Homo sapiens: one gene and its partner. The protein of the gene in region 1 purifies or fractionates together with the protein of each later gene. This does not show direct contact. Each region holds a gene or a part of one and is shown on either strand. Other genes may lie near its edges.

Region 1 (10,363 bases):
TGGGAGGCACCTTCGTGGGCTGGACATCAGCAGAGGACCCAGGGCTGGGGCCCTAGAAGCCTCTCTGTGACAGGACGTGGTCAGCACATCAAACACTCCCTCCCAATTTATCTTTTTTATACATCCCCATTAGCGCATGCTGATCTGGGGAAACAGCCTGTCCATGACTTCCCTTCAAATGCAGAATTACAGGAACCGGACTTGAGCAGGTCTTGCTCTGAGCATCCCTCCAGTGCCCTCTGAATGCCCCGACCCCAATCCGACTCACGCTGCAGTTGTTTTATTTATTTAGTTAGTTATTTTTGAGACGGAGTCTCGCTCTGTCGCCCAGTCTGCAGTGCAGTGGCACGATCTCAGCTCACTGCAACCTCTGCCTCTCGGGTTCAAGCAATTCTCCTGCCTCAGCCTCCCAAGTAGCTGGGATTACAGGCGCCCGCCACCACGCCCGGCTAATTTTTGTATTTTTAGTAAAGACAGGGTTTTGCCATGTTGGCCAGGCTGGTCTCGAGCTCCTGGCCTCAGGTGATCCGCCCGCCTCGGCCTCCCACAGTGCTGGGATTGCAGGCGTCAGCCACTGCGTCTGGCCGGTTCTTGTATTTTTAAATTCAGGTAAAAGCTGAAGACGTTTTCTTCTTTGAAAGCACAGGAACCACAGCCCTGTGGATTTTGCGAGTCGCGGGGCTCCCGGAGCCGCTGGGAGGGCAGCCGTGTGAGATGCGGGGCTGCGAGCGTGGAAACACTCGCAGTCGCCAGTGCTGAGGCATGTTTCAGCCGGGGCGGAATCACATGCATTAATTATTGTACAGAGATGTCTTTAGTAGAAAATGATTTTGAAATTCAGTTTAATTTCATTGTAATGTGCTGCAAACAGGAAGGGAGTATGTGTGTTTAATTGGCTCTCGGGGGTAAGGCCTGGAAGCCGCATGTCTTTGTCACAGGCCATTAGCGATGCTGCTGCATAATGAGAGCCTGCAATCAGCTCACAGCTGCCGCTCCTGCCGGGAGAGCATGATATTAAATAGAAATCAGGAGAAATTAAACTTAACCCTTTCCCTGGCCAGCCCCTCCTGCCACACGGATTCTGGCATAAGCCGGCGGGCACAGGGGACAGCCAGGGATGGCTGGACACAGCTGAGGATGGCCGAGGCCGGCCTGCAGCTCCCCAACGGCCTCCTCCGGGTCAGGATGAGAGGAGAGGTTGCCAGCTTTGATGCCAGCCGCTCCTGCCTCCCCCACCTGCCTCTGTGCCTACAGCCCGCTTCTGCCTCAAGATCACACAGCGGGCTTGTGAGGCCAGGGGTCTCCGCTGCTGCTCAAGGAGATGGCAAAGGTCTGTTTCAGGTAACTCCTCTGACGGCCACAACGATGTCTTCAGACGTCAAAGGTCTGTCTCAGGTAACTCCTCTGACGGCCACAACGATGTCTTCAGACGTCAAAGGTCTGTCTCAGGTAACTCCTCTGACGGCCACAATGATCTCTGCAGATGCTCTGACTCCACGTGCCCTCGCTCAGAGACACACGCGCACATTTGCCACCTGGGGCGAGTGGAAGGTGACGTGGAGGTGGGCACCTCTGCCGGGCAGATGCGGGAGCAGCAGCAGCAGCAGCCCCTCCTGGGGGCATCCAGGGGTCAGGAGAGGGGCGGTAGGGCAGGGCGGCATCCCTGCAGGGGTGAATGGCGTCTTAGGCTCCAGCCGGGTGAGGAAACCTGATAACCGAACTCCTTAGAGAAGAGCCAGGGATCCCGGGAGGACCACCAGGAGCTTGTGGGGAAGGACTGAGGGGAAGAGCCCCAGGTCTCGGGAGGACCACCAGGAGCTCACGGGGAAGGATTGAGGGGAAGAGCCCCGGGTCTCGGGAGGACCACCAGGAGCTCACGGGGAAGGATTGAGGGGAAGAGCCCCAGGTCCCGGGAGGACCACCAGGAGCTCACGGGGAAGGATTGAGGGGAAGAGCCCCAGGTCTCGGGAGGACCACCAGGAGCTCACGGGGAAAGATTGAGGGGAAGAGCCCCAGGTCTCGGGAGGACCACCAGGAGCTCACGGGGAAAGATTGAGGGGAAGAGCCCCAGGTCTCGGGAGGACCACCAGGAGCTCGTGGGGAAGGATTGAGGGGAAGAGCCCCAGGTCCCGGGAGGACCACCAGGAGCTCACGGGGAAGGACTGAGGGGAAGAGCCCCAGGTCCCAGGAGGACCACCAGGAGCTCACAGGGAAGGATGGGGAGAGGGGAGTGGGGGGCTGGAGAACCCCCAGACTGAGAAATTCTGCTCGGAGCGAGAAGGGAGCTGGGCCCAGGTGGCCCCATCCCCCAAGGTTGAACATCAGCCCAGCCTCCCAGGCCCTCCACGTGCTCATGGGCACCACTGCCGGGCACTAGCTTACTTGTCACCCTGTCTGAGGCGTGTTGGGGTAGGAGCAAGAGTCCGCTGCTTCCAGGGCCCAGCTGGGGCTCCATGTGTCCCTGGGCACCCCAGAACCCTCTGGGTCTCAGCCGTTGGGTTCTTACATCTGGGCCAGTGGCAAAGGGTTAAAGGGACCTTGTGACTTAGTTGGGACTCACTGGCCTCAAGAAGCGAAAATCAGAGGGACAGCAGCCCCAGCCGCCGGGGATTCCCTGTGGCGCCAGAGCTCCCCGGCAGGCACTGTGGAGGCCAAGTGGGGACCGGCAGTGTCGTGGTCCCGGCCCACAGCCTCTCAGCCTCCCACAGCCTCTCCCTGTGGTAACGAGGTGGACGCTGAGCCCCAGGCCTGATGGCACATTTGAGGTCAGGTGGGGGCACCTGGGCTGTTCCTGTAGCTGTCCCCTCGTCCAGGGGAGGGACCTTTTCAGAAGCCCTGGGGCCTTTGTCTCATTGACCAAAACCCTCCTGGCCATGCTGCCTTCACAGGACACTGGGCATCTCTGTGGGGCAAGGGAAGGAACACAGGCCTCCTGGTGGGGCCCCAAGACCCAACCAAGGCTCGTCTGGCTGGTGCCAGCCTCTGCGCCAAGGGTGCCGACCAAGGTCAGAGCCGATCGCGGGGATGACAGGTGCCGAAATGGCCATGCTTGCCCCAGCCCCTTTCATCCGGCAGAGGGACCTCGCTGGGCCTGCCACGCTCAGCCAGGCTGTGCTGTGAAGCCCCTCTCTTCCCTTCTCAGAGCCATATGTCCACGCTGACAGCTCCTGAGAGGGACCATGTTTTGCTGCCTGCAGGTGCCAAGCTGACTGATGGGCCATGCTGAGGAGGGTGCCCCAGCCCTCCTGCAAGATGCCCTTCTGTGCAGCCTGCAGGGCCACCAGGCCCACGAGGCGGCCATGGTCTTCAGATGTGTCTTAGCCTGGGTTCCCTAGAAAACACATGAGGACTCTGGGCAGAGGCTGAGTGTTTTTACATTTTTATTTTTAAGCCAAAGTTACACACCTGTGGCTTAAACACCCAAGTAGTTGTAGCAGTTTGAGAAGAAGAATCACAGCCGTGCCCCTTCCCCAGACTCGCCGGCTGCTGCTTCTGTGCGGTCCCCGCATCCCGAGGGCCGCCAGCACCGCCACCTCCAGGCTCCTTTTTGCTGCCATGGCTTGAGTCCCGCAGAGGAGGCCCCTCCTCAGGCACGGCCCGGCTCAGTCCCGTATGGCATCTGCACTATTGAGACTATGGAGTCGCCGCTGAGAACTGAGCCCAGGAGACACTGAGGTTTTTCCTCTTTCTTTGTTTTCCAGAGTCGGGAAAGTCTTGGTTTTCTTGGTCTCCTGGTGCCAATTCCTCGTGGGCTGGGCTGGTCTCCCCATGGCGCCTCCTTCCCCATCACCACCACCCCTTCCCTCCTACCGGGTCAGGACGTCGGCTCCCAGCCCACAGCATCCTCGTCTTCCCTCTTCCGCCCCCAGCTGTGGGGACTGCTTTCCCCTGGGGCTTCCTGAGGCGGGTGTGTAGGGTCCGTACTTGGAGACTTGCGTGTCTCTCCGGGTCTTCGTTCTGCCCTCAGCCTTGCTTGTCGGTTTGGCTGCGTATAGGGTTCAGGGTTAGAAGTCGCTTCTCTATCATTTTCTGGCCTTCAGATTTGCTGCTGCCACAGCCGTGCTGAATCCTGGCACTTGGTGACCCCCTCCTTTTTTTTTCTGTTTTTTTTTTTTTTTTTTTCGAGACAGAGTCTTGCTCTGTCGCCAGACTGGAGTGCAGTGGCGCCATCTCGGCTCAGTGCAACCTCCGCCTTCCGGGTTCAAGCAATTCTCCTGCTTCAGCCTCCCGAGAGTAGCTGGGATTACAGGCGCCCACCACCACACCTGGCTGATTTTTGTATTTTTAGTAGAGACGGGGTTTCACCATGTTGGCCAGGATGGTCTCGATCTCCTGACCTCGTGATCTCCCCACCTCAGCGTCCCAAAGTGCTGGAATTACAGGCATGAGCCACCGCACCCAACCATGACCCCCTCTTTTTAACGTACAGGGTGTCCTCTGTCCCCAGACCCCTGAGCCCAGGTTGAGGAGCCACCAGCTGAGGACGGAGCCAAGGTCACGGAGCTGCCGGGTGAGCGCTGAGCCCAGGTCAGGGAGTTGGGTCTCAGGCCGTCACTGGGACTCCCTCTGCCTTCAAGAAGCCTCTTTCACCCTTGGCCCACAGAGGAGACCTGGATGGCACTGGGGTCCAGGTGCAGAAGCCTCCAGTGTCCACGGGCACCTGAGCTTCCAGCACCTTCCCTCCTGCTGGGCGGTGGCCTGTGCCTGGCCGCAATGGAGGCCGCCTTCCCCACTGCCCCTCTGAGCCTCAGTCTGTCCTCCCTGCAGCCACCTCCCCTGGCCAGGTGCCCCGGGGTAACTGGTGGAGGCTTTCACGTAACTTGGTTTCCAGCTGCCTCTGTACACACACAGGCACCTGTTCCAGGCTTGGCCTCTCTGTACACACACACGGGCACCTGTTCCAGGCTTGGAGGCTGAGAACTTGGGGGCAGAGATCTCAGGGCATCGGCTTGGGCGGGGTCCTTGGGCAGGGCCTTGGGCTTCCCTCGGCACTTTCCTCAAGGACTGGGGCCAAGCTTCACATTCTGTTGCTGGCATCAGTGCCATTTGGGAGCAAAAGTCCGACAGGCTGGGTCTGGGCCTCTCTTCACCTTGTTTCCTGGGATCGCGCTTTGGGTGCTGGTGTCACTCCAGATCCAGGCTCGGGAACCACATCTGCACAGCAGAACAGGCGCTGTTCTTATCTTGCGTGCGGGTCAGGACATCCCCCCGGCCAGGAGTGCTTCCTCCGAGGCCCACAGACAAGTTCTCGCTGGGGGACTGGGGACCACAGCACCTCACTCCACCTACACTCTAGAGAATTCAAATCTGAGTATTGGAAGATTTATTTTCAGTTACAGTGGAAGGCAGAGACATGAAATAGCACCAAATTCAAAAGCAGCTCATAAATCCAGGTAATAGGAGTTTATTGATTGCTACATTGTATCTGTCAGAAGAAAACTCCTTTAATGAACACATCAGGCCGAGGACATACACAGCCCATTGGCAGCCGACTCCGATTCCAGAATCGATGCATTTTGATAAATAGGTTGTTATGGAAAGTAAAGGTTATTTAACTTGTTTGACTTGCATTTCACAGTGATCGCAAGTTGCCCTGGAGCCCTCTGAACCTTCTGAGTCGCCCTCGCTGCCGCAGGACCTCCTCCCGCGGGGTGTCCGACCCGCTCTTGCTTGGCTGAGACTTTGTTTAAACCCTGGCTCCGATGCCTCTGAGCCCTTGATAGCAGCGTCCCAGCCTGGAAGAACAAAACCAGCCACTTTTCCCCTTGGCAAAGGCACAGCAAGGCGGGTGAGGCGGGCGCTGAGTAGTCTGGGAATGGGCAGGGAGATGTCGACCCTCGGAGCTGAGACTGCTCTGTGCTGAGAAGCTAGAACAAAGCCTGACATGTTCCAAGGGGCAAGCTCAGGGCTGGGAGGGAAGCAGCGGGGCCGCCCCTTTGGGTGGGGGTGCCCAGGCCTTGCAGACAAGACACTGGCCAGAGGAGGTGGAGCAGGGGTACTGGGGCAGAGGGGCCATGTTTGTGCAGCAGGATGGACCCTGGAGGGCCCCGGCCTAGAGGGGGCCTTTGCCAGGAAGATGCCAGGAACGTCCAGGCCAAGGCGTCCGGGCAAAGGCATCCAGGCCCGGGAGACGCATGTGGGACTTGGGCTTTCCTCTGTGGGCAGTGGGAAGTCTCTCCCTACCCCTGGAAGGAGCTCCAGGCAGCAGTGAGGATGGGGATTCTGACACTGGAGTGGGGAGCCGGCCCTGTGGTGCTGGCTGGGCTGAGAGCGGCACCACCTTCTGATGCCCAGGGTGGGAAGGACACACGACTGCCACCATGCACTGAGGGCCCTGCACGCCACACACGTGCTCTGAGCACTGAGGGTCCCCTCATGCCACGCACAAGTTCTGGGCACAGAAGCACCTCTCAGAATCATCCCCGAGACAGGCGTCCATCACAGAGACAGGTCTCAGTCCTGCACTGATTGGCTTCGCCCAGTGCTGCTGGGGGAGTCTCAGACACAGCCTTTTTCCGACAGGTATAGCTGCCACTTTCTCCGGCACAGAAGCCTGGGGCCCTGGGAATGGCACCATGTTGCGCGCCGACCCCTACGGTTCTTCCCTCCGCATGGCTCAGTGGAAACCGTGCGTGCAGCACAGCAGGCAGCTGGGGCCTGTGACGACCCTGGGGTTGGAGGCCAGGCAGGGCTATCACTGAGAAGCAGGGATTTGGGGCCTGGGGCCCAGGGAATGGACAACTCCCCAAGCTGCCCCCACCAGTCCTTCCTGAGCACTGGCTCTGGAAGAAGCATCTCGGGGCAGAGGCAGCCAGGCCCAGGCAGGGAGAGACCCCCAAACAAGGCCTACAGCAGGGTCTCAGGGCCTGACCATGCCAGAAACAGCCCAGAGCCAGAGAGGATGGGCAGATACTCAGTGCCACCACTCCTGGGAGATCTCAGCACCAGGGCTTCGACCTCTGGGGATACACACCCACACCTGCTGAGATATAACACATCTGCAGAGACACAGCCACGCCTGCAGAGACATACCCACACCTGCAGACACACCCACACCTGCAGACACACCCACACCTGCAGACACACCCACACCTGCAGAGACACAGCCACACCTGCAGACACACCCACACCTGCAGACACCTACACCTGCAGGCACACCCACACCTGCAGACAGAGCCACACCTGCAGAGACACCCTCACCTGCAGAGATACAGGCACACCTGCAGAGACACAGCCACACCTATAGACACACCCACACCTGCAGAGACACACCCACACCTACAGAGACACCCACACCTGCAGACACACCCACACCTGCAGACACACCCACACCTAAGGAGACGGGGTCTCGCAGTGGGCGGAGAGGTTGGGTCTTGCATCTAATCAGCCATTGATGGGCCTCTCCTGTGAAGGGCACTCATTCCTTGTATTCATAAATTAAGCTCATGTGAGTTTGTTCTTTAACAAGTTATTGCGCGATCATAATCCATTGCCGACGTTGGCGTGACTCACCATGTCATGAGCCCACTCGGGGCTGGTGCTGCTGGAGATGGGGAAGAAAATTGCTCCATAAACCAAAAAGCAACATTTTAAAACTTATAAAAAAGATTCGCAGGAAATTAGAAATAACACACAGGGGTTCCTTGTGCCGTCCCCCCAGTTTCTCCCAGCATCAGCCTGGTGTGTAACGGTGGTACATCCTCAGTGCCGTGCGTAGCTTTGGTGCAGTCTCAGCCCCGTGCGTAGCTGTGGTGCAGCCTCAGCCCCGTGAGTAACTGTGGTGCATCCTTGGAGCCAGGACACAGGCAGCTCAAGAGGGTGCCGGGGACTTGTCAGCCTTGGGGGCAGGCAGTGATGGCCTCTCCGGCAGGACCAGAGCAGGGCAGTGGCTCCATGCTGCGCTGGGTCTCTGGGTGGTGCAGGCCAGGGTGGAGCCAGGCCAGAAGCTGTATGGAGGGCCCTGAGCACCTGGCAGCCTCCCTGGTGTCAGCAGCTGTGGCATCCGTGGGGCAGGAGCAGCCTGGACGGGGTGGCTCGGTGCGATTAAGAGATGCTATTGGAAGATTGGTGGCTGTCTGGTCCAGAGGGGACACACAAGCCAGGCTGCACAGCAGGAGCAGGAGCCATGGCGGGTCCCACGGGACTTGGGACAGGCTGTGTCCAACCCCGCCCACAGCCCAACCTGCACACCCCCTTCCAGCCGCCCAGACTACCCCAGGGGCGCAGTGAGACCACTCTCCTGTCGGGGAGCCTCTGGTTTTTCTGCTACCCATCAGCACAGAGTTCCAGAGTTCCAGAGCTCCATAAATAAGCCTGGAGCCCACCTGGGCACACCCATCCGTCTTGTTTAATAGACTGAGGAGCACGCCATGGGTCTCAAGGAGTGGTGAGGTGGATGGATGGGGCCTTTCTGCGTCCAACAGCATGATGTATAATGAAGTATTTATGATTTATTCCAGCTAATAACCCATGTGGAGTGCAGGGTATGTGGAAGCAGACAGTTGAGGCCTCAGCACTGCCCTTACATGCCCTGCATGCTCCCACAGCCACGGCACACATGTGTGCGTGCACATGCTCACAGTCACGCATACCGCGCCCTCCCAGCTGCACACACGCTCGCAGGCACGCACACTATGGGCCCATGCGTCATGAGACAGCTTCGGGCTGGGAGTACAGGCTCTGAGGCTGCAGCCCGCTCTTCCCGACTCCCCACCCTCAGTGGCTGGTGGTGTCTGTGTTGAGCTACTCGAGAAAGGAAGAAAACGAAGGAAGCTTGGTTCCCACAGGAGCTCCAGGAACTGCACGGGGAGGAGCAAGGGCCACGTCGTGGCTTTGCCTTAGGAAGGAAAACGTGGGGCAGCCCCGGCCATTGTTCTAGGACCAGCATGGTCAGGTGTGGAGGGCACAAGATGGGCACCAGCAGGAGGCTCCAGGCACCCAGGAAAGGCCCTGTCCTCCTCAGCCACCAGCCCCTCCCTGTGGCCTCTGCGTGGGCCTTGGTGCCTCTCCCATCCAGAGGGGCTGGGCATTCACTGCTGGAGCCCACCGTGGTGGGATGTTGTAATGTGTCTGGTTCACTTCTTTTACTGAATATTTGGCCTGGATTCTTTTGTGGGCCTGAGAGAAATGGCAGGACAGGGCCTGGTGGGCCTCGGCCCCTCTCCCAGAGCAGCCTGCCTGCATGAGGGGCGGCCCCTCTATGCTGCAGTCCCAGGGGCTCCGTCTGGGGGCCCTTGCAGCAGTAGCAGCACAGCCAGGAGGCCCAGCACACCCTGGCACCCATCCTGAGGGAGGGTAAAGCATCAGACCCTGTGCTTGTTGCTCAGAAAAGGCCACGCATCCCACCCATGGCCAGTGGTTATCAATCACTGTCACAGAAACAGGGCCTGAGCCGGCTTCCTAATGCAGGGTGTCTGCAGACCACAGGCCCAGCAGGGCTTCTGGCACCTCCTGCTCCTGGCAGGCTCTGGACCCACTGCTGACCTGCCCCTGGAGGAAGTGCATACAGCTGAGCATGGGGAAGGGACCCCACAGGAAGGGCAGACCCCACATCATGGGCACAGTCCCACCTTGGGACGCACGTCGTGACCACCAGGAATGTGGGCTTACCTGGCATAGCTGTTTCTCCGTTGGGGTTGCCACAGGGTAGTAACCAGAGCCCCCTTTCCTCAGAGGACACCGTGGTGTTTAAGGACGGCCAGTTAACCAGAGCCCCTTTTCCTCAGGGGACACCGTGGTGTTTAAGGATGGCCAGTTAACCAGAGCCCCTTTTCCTCAGGGGACACCGTGGTGTTTAAGGATGGCCAGTACTGGATCCGAGGCCGGACCTCAGTGGACATCATCAAGACTGGAGGCTACAAGGTCAGCGCCCTGGAGGTGGAGTGGCACCTGCTGGCCCACCCCAGCATCACAGGTGCGTGGCCGGACTTGGGCCAGGGAGGCCAGGCTAGACGGGTGCTGCCTTCCATGTTTGAGTTTTAGACGACTGCAGATGAGTCGACGCCGTCCCAGCTGCCTGCAGGGGTCCCTGTGATGCTCACCTCTGGTCCCTGCCCTGGCCAGGGAACATGGGGCTAGTGGGGGTGCAGCCTGCTCGGTGTTGGAGCCACTGACCCCGTGCCCACCAGAGCTCCCAGGCCTGGCCGGGCGCAGCTCCCATCTGCATGATTCCCCTGCAGGAAGGTGGCAGGGAGAGTGCAGAGAGCCAAGGGGCGGGAAGGCAGAGCCCCTGTGAGTGCCCAGTCCCCAGATCCACCGTGGGGAGCCCGTCCTCACTCCCCTCCCCACAGGCCCAGCCAGCACCAGGACGAGTGATTGGAGTGGGGCCTGTCCAAGGACGGGCTCCAGGGCTGCGGCCAGACTG
Region 2 (10,635 bases), on another chromosome or scaffold:
CAAGTATCTGTTCCTGATGCTTTTCGGGTTATAGGAGGCCCTAGAAAATTGGATGAGGCTGGGCGTGGTGGCTTATGTCTTTAATCCCAGCACTTTGGGAGGCCGAGGCAGGTGGATCACTTGAGGTCAGCAGTTCAAGACCAACCTGGCCAACTTGGTGAAACCCCATCTCTACTGAAAATACGAAAATTAGAGCCAGGTGCGGTGGCTCACACCTGTAATCCCAGCGCTTTGGGAGGTCAAGGTGGGTGGATCAGCTGAGGTCAGGAGTTCGAGATCAGCCTGGCCAACATCGTGAAATCTCGTCTCTACTAAAAATACAAAAAAGTTAGGCACGGTGGCTCACACCTGTAATCCCAGCACTTTGGGAGGCCAAAGCGGGTGGATCACCTGAGGTTGGGACTTCGAGACCAGCCTGAGCAACACGGAGAAACCCTGTCTCTACTAAATATACAAAATTAGCCTGTAATATACAAAATTAGCGTGTGGTGGCGCATGCCTGTAATCCCAGCTACTCAGGAGGCTGAGGCAGGAGAATCGCTTGAACCCGGGAGGCGGAGGTTATGGTGAGCTGAGATTGCACCATTGCACTCCAGCCCGGGCAACAAGAGTGAAACTCCATCTCAAAAAAAAAAACAAAAACAAAACAAAACAGGCTAGGTGTGGTGGCTCACGCCTGTTAATCCCAGCACTTTAGGAGGCCGAGGCGGGTGGATCACGAAGTCAGGAGATCGAGACCATCCTGGCTAACACGGTGAAACCCCGTCTCTACTAAAAACACAAAAAAATTAGCCGGGCGTGGTTGCGGCACCTGTAGTCCCAGCTACTCGGGAGGCTGAGGCAGGAGAATGGTGTGAACCCAGAAGGCAGAGCTTGCAGTGAGCCGAGATGGCGCCATTGCACTCCAGCCTGGGCAACAGAGCGAGACTCCGTCTCAAAAAAAAAAAAAAAAAAAAAAAATTAGCTGGGCAGGGTGGCGGGCGCCTGTTATCCCAGATACTCAGGAGGCTGAGGGCTGAGGCACTAGAATCGCTTGAACCTTGGAGGCAGAGGTTGCAGTGAGTTGAGCTCTTGCCACACTGCACTCCAGCCTGGGCGACAGAGCAAGCCTCCGTCAAAAAATAAAATTTGTATGAAACTCCTCTCCCAGAAACAGACATAAGTACACACAAAATGTAGAAATGATTTCTGAAAATTTCTTTTTTCTTTTTCTTTTTCTTTTTTTTTTTTTTGAGACAGAATCTCGCTCCGTCGCCCAGGCTGGAGTGCAGTGGCGCGATCTCAGCTCACTGCAAGCTCCACCTCCCGGGTTCACGCCATTCTCCTGCCTCAGCCTCCCGAGTAGCTGGGACTACAAGCGCCCGCCACCACACCGACTAATTTTTTGTATTTTTGGTAGAGACGAGGTTTCACCGTGTTAGCCAGGATGGTCTCGATCTCCTGACCTCGTGATCCGCCCGCCTCCACCTCCCAAAGTGCTGGGATTACAGGCGTGAGCCCCCGCGCCCGGCCAAGAATTTCTAAAGGCTCCTTCACAGACCCCAGCTGAGGAAAATTATGAAGTCCTGCAACAAGGTATTCGGGGCTCCTTAAGGGAGTGTGTGGTGACTGGAAGGATGGTATAGTTTACAGCAGAGGTGCTCAATCTTGAATATGCATCAGAATCACCGGGGTTGCGGGGGGGGGGGTCTTGATAAACCACCGTTTGCTGGGTCCCACTGCCAAGTCCCCGACTCAGTAGGTCCAGGGAACTGCATTTCTAACCAATTATAATAAATTCCAGGTGATCTTGATGCTGCTGGTCCAGGGACCATTCTTTGAGAGCCTGTGTGGGGAAATGAGAGAACTGGATATAACCCACATTTTCAGAACTCGAGACAAATCCTATTAGTAAATTTCACTGGAAAATGTTTCTCCCACTTACTAGGTATGTGTTGTTAGGCAAGTGTGTCTTTAACTTTCCTAAGTATGCTTTCGTATCTATAAAATAAGGGTGTTGGCCGGGCGCGGTGGCACACGCCTGTAAGCCCAGCACGTTGGGAGGCCGAGGCAAGTGAATCACGAGGTCAGGAGTTCGAGACCAACCTGGGCAACATGGTGGAACCCTGTCTCTACTAAAAACACAAAAAATTAGCTGCACGTGGTGGCAGGCGCCCATAATCCCAACTACTCTGGAGGCTGAGGCAGGAGAATTGCTTGAACTTGGGAGGCGGAGGTTGCAGTGAGCCGAGACCGTGACATTGTACTCCAGCCTGGGCGACGAGAACAAGACTCCATCTCAAAAAAATAAAATAAGGGTATGGCTGGGCATGGGTGGCTCATGCCTGTAATCCCAACACTTTGGGAGGCTGAGGCAGGAGGATCACTGGAGCCTAGGAGTTCAAGACCAGCCTGGGCAAAACAGTGAGACCCCATCTCTTTTTTTTTTTTTTTCCTTTGAGACAGAGTCTCCCTTTGTCACCCAGGCTGGAGTGCGATCTCAGCTCACTGCAACCTCCACCTCCTGAATTCAAGCGATTTTTCTGCCTCAGCCTCCCAAGTAGCTGGGATTACAGGCACCTGCCACCAAGCCTGGCTAATTTTTGTATTTTTAGTAGAGACGAGGTTTCATCATGTTGGCCAGGCTGGTCTGGAACTCTTGACCTCAAGTGAGTGATCTGCCCACCTCTACCTCTCAAAGTGTTGGGATTACAGGCGTGAGCCACTGCACCCAGCCAGTGAGACCCCATCTGTACAAAAAATAATAATAAATAAAATAAAATAAGGTTAAGGAATCATTATGAATCTTCCTGTAAACATCAAATGAGGCCATACACCCTAAGAATACAGCTCACAGGTCCCTACTGAATGTGACAGTTTAGTCCAGATGGGAGTTCCCTGAGGGCAGGAACGGAGTTTCAGCAACTGGTCCCCATGGCAGGTTGGAGTATGCACTAACCTAACATTTACTGAAATTTCAAAATGTGCTGGGTAAGGCTGGGCGCGGTGGCTCACGCCTGCAATCCCAGCACTTTGGGAGGCGGGGGTTGCAGTGAGCAGAGATCGCGCCACTGCACTCCACCCTGGGAAACAGAGCAAAAACTCCGGCTCCAAAAAGAAAAAGAAGTGGGAGGGCTAGGCCCGGCGTGGTGGCTCACGCCTGTAATCCCAGCACTTTGGGAGGCCGAGGCAGGCGGGTCACGAGGTCAGGAGATCGGGACCATCCTGGCTAATACGGTGAAACCCCCGTCTTTACTAAAAATACAAAAAAAAATTAGCCGGGCGTGGTGGCAGGCGCCTGTAGTCCCAGCTACTCAGGAGGCTGAGGCAGGAGAATGGCGTGAATCCGGGAGGCGGAGCTTGCAGTGAGCCGAGATCGCGCCACTGCACTGCAGCCTGGGCGACAGAGCGAGACTCCGTCTCAAAAAAAAAAAAAAAAAGAGGTAGGAGAGCTTAATATCGGGCTGGGAGGATGGGGTGGAGTAGGGTGAGCGAGGCGTCAAGTTCGATTCCTAAAAAGAGTAAAAGGGGAGCCTCAGTGAGGTTGGGGAGCAGGCCTCGGCTCCAAGATGAACCAGCACCCTCCCGACCCCCGGCAGCACCCCAGCCCCAGGAGTCCTGGCAGCCCCACCGACAGAGCTGAGCTGTGACCAGCGGTCGGAGCCACATGGTCACAGCCGCCACCAGCATCAACATCAGCATCGACTTGGGCTTCCGCCGCCACCACTGCCCCTCAACCGCCACGGGGAGTCGCTGCACAATCCGAGTACGTGCAGGCTGAAGCCCTGCGCATGCGCATCAATGAGTCCCGGGAGCGGGCCTCCGCGCACTGCAGCCCGGCGCTCCGCCTGAATCTTGAGCATGCGCAGACGAATCCCGGGAAGCCCGAATCCGCGCACCCCAAAGTGCGCTCAGAGCCTGAGTATGCGCACCCGGCCACCCGTGGCCAGTCTAGAGTCTGAGCATGCGCATGTTGTCCGCGCGCCTAAGCATGTGCACAGGCTGCTCATGAGTTCCTAAACGTTGCGTTTGCAACACTACCAGTGTTTTGTACGGGCGCTGGCGCCTGCTCACAGCCTTCCACGTGACCGGAAAAGGCCTTCAGCGCATAAAGTGGGAGACCGGAAGAGGCGGAGACGATCCGATGCTCGAACTCCGCCCCCTCTTCTCCGCGTAGGCCCAGCTCCCTGAAGCGGCTGTTTCGAGCCACGCGCCCATCGGGTACCGAGGCACGCGCCGGGCGTCACGTGCGTTTCGCGGCGAGCGGAAATGACGCGAGTTGTGTGAGCCGCCAGTATGGCCGGGCTATGGCGGCGAGCACTGGCTACGTGCGACTGTGGGGAGCGGCGCGGTGCTGGGTGCTGCGGCGGCCGATGCTGGCCGCCGCCGGGGGGCGGGTTCCCACTGCAGCAGGAGCGTGGTTGCTCCGAGGCCAGCGGACCTGCGACGCCTCTCCTCCTTGGGCACTGTGGGGCCGAGGCCCGGCAATTGGGGGCCAATGGCGGGGGTTTTGGGAAGCGAGCAGCCGCGGCGGAGGCGCATTCTCGGGGGGCGAGGACGCCTCCGAGGGCGGCGCGGAGGAAGGAGCCGGCGGCGCGGGGGGCAGCGCGGGCGCCGGGGAAGGCCCGGTCATAACGGCGCTCACGCCCATGACGATCCCCGATGTGTTTCCGCACCTGCCGCTCATCGCCATCACCCGCAACCCGGTGTTCCCGCGCTTTATCAAGATTATCGAGGTAATGGGAGTCCCCGCCTCGGCCTCAGGTTTCCCACCTGTGCAAGCAGCGGGCTGAACCGTGGGATCACTTGAGCGCCCTTGTGTTTCGCAACTTTTTCAGACATGAAGTTTCTCGAAGGGTGCAGTTCGAATCCTTGTCTGCTCACCACTAGCTTGGGAACCTTGAGCCAAAGTCCTCTCCCTTTCGGATTTCTTAGGATCCGTTAGATGAGAGGAGTTGAACCCGATGAGCCTAGGATTATCCACTTTAGAACGCCGGTCATAGAAATCCGGGGCCGGGAGGGACCTGAGTAGTGTTACGGCGCTGTTAGTTTTCTCCTTACTTGGCACGAGTTTTGTAATACCTCCTCGCCCCAGGCGCTCTGCCGTCTGGTTACGAGCCTCACTGGGATCAGAATTCATTCCTTTCTTAGACAAATACTTCTTGATTGCTTATTATTTGCCAGAGAGTGTTCTAGGTTCTGGGGATATGGCAGTGAACAAAACAGACAAAAATTTCTGCCTTTGAAGCTGGGCATGGTGGCGCGCGCTGTACTCCCAGCTACTCTGGCGGCTGAGGTGGAAGGATTGTTGGAAACCTGGAGTCCAGCCTGGTCAACATGGCGAGACCCTGTCTCTTAAAAAATAAATCTGCCTTGGAGCTTACATTTTGGCAGGATGAGACAGGCAATAAAGATGTTTAGTAACGATATTGTATTAGAAGGCAATAATTACGAGAAATAGTAGAGCATGGATGGGACAGGAGGCTTAGGAGGGTGGGAAGAGGTGGGTTATTCAGTGTGTTCTTGACCTCCTACCACGTAGCAAGTTCTGAGAATACTGTAGAGAACAAGTCATTCCGGTGGTAGAAATTAGATCATTTCAGACTAAGAGCCTTGGGGGTGGGGAGGGAGCAGGATGATGTAATAGAGAGAAAGCAGTGAGTGTAAGGAACTTGAGCTTTTACAGTAGGAAGGCCCCAAAAGCCTTCTCCCCCAGCTCCCCTTCCCTTAAAAAAAAAAACTACTGATGTGGAAAGTGGCATCTATGGGAAGGTTATCTCCTAACTGGCAGAGCAAGGTCACGCAGTGAGTCAGCCTCTGCGCTCACTCTCCAGACTCTTCTAAACAAATCTCAAGGATCTGTTGGGAAGGGAAAGGCCATTTCAGAGGGGCAGCAGCCAGTAGAGAGGGGACAGAGGGAGCTTCTCCAACGCTGCTCCAAGATTTTTTTTTTTTTTTTTTTGAGACCAAGTTGCACTCTGTCATCTAGGCTAAAGTGCAGTGGCGCGATTTCAGCTCACTGCAACCTCTGCCTCCCGGGTTCAAGTGATTCTCCTGCCTCAGCCCCCTGAGTAGCTGGGATTACAGGCGCCCGCCACCGTGGCTGGCTAATTTTTCTATTTTTAGAAGAGACAGGGTTTCACCATGTTGCCCACGCTCGTCTCGAACTCCTGACCTCAAGTGATTCACCCGCCTCAGCCTCCCAAAGTGCTGGGATTGCAGGTGCGAGTCACTGCGCCCGGCCCCAAGGCCTTTCCTTGATGTTGAGTACTGGTTACTGATGCAGGCCCCCAGAGCAAGACCTTGTGGGGTCCTATCCTAGCTCCATAACCTTCAGCAAGTTATTCCTTTGGCTTCCCTCTTCTCATCTGTGACCTGGACATATTAGTGTCTTATTAGAGTTGTTGTGGGATTTAAATGAGGCCATGTGGGCTGGGCACGGTGTCTCACATGTTTAATCCCAGCACTTTGGGAGGCTGAGGCAGGAGCATAATTTGAAACCAGTATGGTCAACATAGACCCTGTCTCTACAAAAAAAAAAAAAAAAAGAAAGAAAGAAAAGCCGGGCACAGTGGCATGCACCTGTCTTCCCAGCTACTTGGAAGGCTGAGGCAGGAGGATCACTTGAAACTGGGAGATCAAGGCTGCAGTGAGCCATGGTGTCACCACTGCACTGCAGCCTGGGCAACAGAATGAGGCCCTGCCTCAGCAATAACGTGATGCTGTTTCCTCTTTGGTGTACTTCTGACATTTCAGGACTCTGCCCCGGAGGCCTTTTTCCCATCCTTGACTTCACCCCTGGCAGTTCTCTTTACCCTCCCAGGTTTCTGGGCCCAGGATGGTGTTCATCAGGCCTGGTCCCCTCCGTTCTGCAGAGCGACAGATGCCCCTTGCTCCCGGTGCCTGAGCAGAGAGATGATTCTTCTAAGAGAGTTCAGACGGCCCACGTGGAGCTAGCCAGGAGAGTTAAATGAGTGGCTGCAGATAGTATTTGGGAGACTGGCAGGTGGTTCTCATTGTATTTCTGGTTGATGATGCATTGTAAATCATAAAAATGGATCCTGCCAAGGCCAGGAGGCAGATGCCAAGGATGCAGCTATCAGCTGTTGGCAGAGGGGAAATTGGGAGGCAACTTCTTTGGGACCCAATAAATGTTTCTGAAATTGTTAGCAAAGCTTGATTTACTCTTCAGTTTGTACTTGACTTGTCTGGCCAACTTGCTCTAGAAGCTTCTCTCCTATTAGCAACTTTTGAGTAAGGAACAATGGCTCTTAATTTTTGGTGGGTATTAAAGAATAAATCATAAGTGTTAGAAGTATTAGTTTCTTTTAAAAACTAACTTCGTGGGCTGGGCGCGGTGGCTCACGCCTGCAATCCCAGCACTTTGGGAGGCTGAGGTGGGCGGATCACGAGGTCAGGAGATCGAGACCATACTGGCTAACAAGGTGAAACCCCGTCTCTACTAAAAATACAAAAAAATTAGCCTGGAGTGGTGGTGGGCGCCCGTAGTCCCAGCTACTCGGGAGGCTGAGGCAGGAGAATGGTGTGAACCCAGGAGGCGGAGCTTGCAGTGAGCTGAGATCGCTCCACTGCGCTCTAGCCTGGGCGACAGAGCAAGACTCTGTCTTAAAAAAAAATTGCTTCCCTCCTTTGTTCAGGTGTGCTCTGCTCTCGCCATTGTTCCATCTGCGAGGAGCACCCTTTCTTCAGAAAGTAAAATTGTCTTGCTAAGAAAACTTTTTGTCCAAATGCTAATTTTTCCTTACAGTACAGAGGTACAAGCGTTCTGTCTCTAAACAAACATTTTACTTATAACAGTGGGTCACACACCCTCCTGTCAGATGTTACTGACTTTTTTTTTTCTGGGAACAGAAAAAAAAAAAATTATGTATCTATAGTGTCAGGAATTTCTGGACCACAAGTTAAGAGCCTGTGTTAGGGAGTGAGTCAAAACACTGGCTCTCAAAGGATGGTTGTGGACCAGCAGCATCGGCATCATGTGATGCTCTTTTGTTTGAAATGCAGATTTTTGGACCCACCCTAGAACTGAATCAAAAACTCCAAGGGTGGGGCCCAGCAGTGAGCTGCTTAAAGTCCTTCAGGTCATCCTGGTGCCTGCAAAAGTTTGAGGGCCATTACTATATATATATATATATATATATATATATATATATATATATGTATATTTTAACTTTATTATATAATAAAGAATTAAAAACTTCAAAAAGAAAATAGAGATGGGGTCTCACTGTGTTACCCAGGCTGGTCTCAAACTCCTGGGCTCAAGCGATCCTCCCACCTCAGCCCCGCAAAGTGCTGGGATTACAGGCATGAGCTACCATTACCAGGCTAGCCAGGCCATTACCTTTAATCAGGGTCTGTCCAGTGAATTAACAAAGGCTTGAAAGAAATCAGGTGAGCTCCTTGCGCCTTCAAATGCTTCTTAGAAGACATCATTAGCCCTGAACCTGCCGTTGAGAATGTGCTGTGATCCTGGGGGTCTTGATCATTAATGAACAGCATATGATGTGATAAGGAAGTAACTGTCAATGAAAATTGGAGGAACCAGGCATGGTGGCTCATGGCGAAACTCCGTCTCTACTAATAATACAAAAATTAGCGAGTGCAGTGGCGTGTGCTTGTAACCCCAGCTATGTGGTAGGATGAGTTGGAAGAATCGCTTGAACCTGGGAGGTGGAGGTTGCAGTGAGCCGAGATTGCACCAGTGCACTCCAGCCTGGGTGGCAGAGTGAAACTTTCTTTTTTTTTTTTTTTTTTTTTTTTTTTTTTTTTTTTATGAGACAGAGTCTCACTCTGTCGCCCAGGCTGGAGTGCAGTGGCGTGATCTTGGCTCACTGCATGCTCCGCCTCCCGGGTTCACGCCATTCTCCTGCCTCAGCCTCCCGAGTAGCTGGGACTACAGGTGCCCGCCACCACGCCCGGCTAATTTTTGTATTTTTAGTAGAGACGGGGTTTCACCGTGTTAGCCAGGATGGTCTCGATCTCCTGACCTTGTGATCTGCCCGCCTCGGCCTCCCAAAGTGCTGGGATTACAGGCGTGAGCCACCGCGCCCAGCCTGAAACTTTATTAAAAAAAAAAAAAAAAGGAAGTTATCAATCTCTGGAGTGGGTCACATTTAAATTACTTATGTTTATTCTGACATTAATAAAAGCAGAATGGTTTTGATTTTCAAACCAAGACAGTTTGCCCTGGACATCCCCTTTGAAGCTGGATGTTAAATCAATTTCTGGGTTCTGACCATTCGTCTACTTTGAATTTCCTTTGGGAGTGGGGAAACCGCTAAGAAGAATCCAGCTGGTCAGTTCTGCTCACTGTATTCACCACCACAGCCTCCTGGCCTCCAGCACTTTTTTTTTTTTTTTTTTTTTTTTGTTTAGGCGTTCCCAAACCATGTTGATTAGTATCCAGGATGCGGATCAGCATGTCCCCAGAGAATAATCTACACAGCGTTAGAGCGGCTCTGCTGTCAAAAAATGTCAGCTACAAAAGCTACCCTGGGAGGCCGGGCGTGGTAGTTTACGCCTATAATCCCAGCACTTTGGGAGGCTGAGGTGGGTGGATCACGAGGTCAGGAGTTAAAGACCATCCTGGCCAAGATGGTGAAACCCCATCTCTACTAAAAATACAAAACAATCAGCCGGACCTGGTGGCGGGCGCCTGTAATCCCAGCTACTCAGGAGGCTGAGGCAGAGAATTGCTTGATCCCGGGAGGCGGAGGTTGCAGTGAGCTGAGATCATGCCACTGCACTCCAGCCTGGGTGACAGAGCGAGACTCCGTCTCAGAAAAAAAAAAAAAAAAGAAAAGCTACCCTGTGCTGCGTTTGGTGGCTCACGCCTATAATCCCGGCATTTTGGGAGGCTGAGGTGGGTGGATCACCTGAGGTCAGGAGTTCGAGACCAACCTGGCCAATATGGTGAAACCCCATCTCTACTAAAAATAAAAAAATTAGCCAGGTGTGGTGGTGCATGCCTGTAATCCCAGCTACTCAGGAGGCTGAGGCAGGAGAATCCCTTGAACTCAGTGGGGGTGGAGGTTGCAGTGAGCTGAGATCACGCCATTACATTCCAGCCAGGGCAACAGAATGAGACTCTGTCTCAAAAAAAAAATCTACTCTGCATTTCACTTTGGGGTCATTGTCATGCTAGGTTAAAAATAAGAAGTTGGTTGAGCTGCTGAGAAGGAAAGTTCGTCTCGCCCAGCCTTATGTCGGCGTCTTTCTAAAGAGAGATGACAGGTAAGTGTGATTTTTCCTTCATTCCCTTGTTGACGGTGCCCTAGAGTCCAGCTCACCACAAGTCCTACTCTGTACTTTGCACCTTTGACCCCTGACCCCGAGGAAACCAGGGAAGACCTCCAGAATAAAGGCCAGAAGCCACGCAGGCTACCTTTTCAGCCTGGGCTGAGAACTCAGCTTGTAGTACTAAACTTCATGCATTGTTAAGATACGGGGGAAATTAACTTCAGGGACTCTTAGTGATGAAATGCTCCATGAGGCTACCTGAAAGTCGAGCTAGCTGCTCGGAGATGTGGCTCCATGTAGAAATGAGTTCCATGGGCCGGGCGTGGGGTCGCACACCTGTAATCCCAGCACTTTGGGAGGCTGAGGCATGTGGATCACCTGAGGTCAGGAGTT

The links.
Region 2: the proteins of ACSF3 (region 1) and LONP1 purify together in Homo sapiens (co-immunoprecipitation; 2 studies listed by BioGRID and IntAct, with this or other methods). This does not show direct contact.

What each region holds. Positions count from the first base shown.
Region 1 is NC_000016.10:89,135,489-89,145,851, forward strand, and holds part of ACSF3 (malonate--CoA ligase ACSF3, mitochondrial isoform 1 precursor), read left to right. Parts: intron 1-1,059; exon of another isoform or gene 1,060-1,341; intron 1,342-5,578; exon of another isoform or gene 5,579-5,788; intron 5,789-9,725; exon of another isoform or gene 9,726-9,778; coding exon 9,779-9,913; intron 9,914-10,363. UniProt on the Homo sapiens protein: Catalyzes the initial reaction in intramitochondrial fatty acid synthesis, by activating malonate and methylmalonate, but not acetate, into their respective CoA thioester. May have some preference toward very-long-chain substrates.
Region 2 is NC_000019.10:5,713,784-5,724,418, reverse strand, and holds the start of LONP1 (lon protease homolog, mitochondrial isoform 1 precursor), read left to right. Parts: upstream 1-4,272; 5' UTR 4,273-4,286; coding exon 4,287-4,715; intron 4,716-10,147; coding exon 10,148-10,236; intron 10,237-10,635. Other genes in the region: CATSPERD (cation channel sperm-associated auxiliary subunit delta), read right to left, coding at 3,611-3,681. UniProt on the Homo sapiens protein: ATP-dependent serine protease that mediates the selective degradation of misfolded, unassembled or oxidatively damaged polypeptides as well as certain short-lived regulatory proteins in the mitochondrial matrix.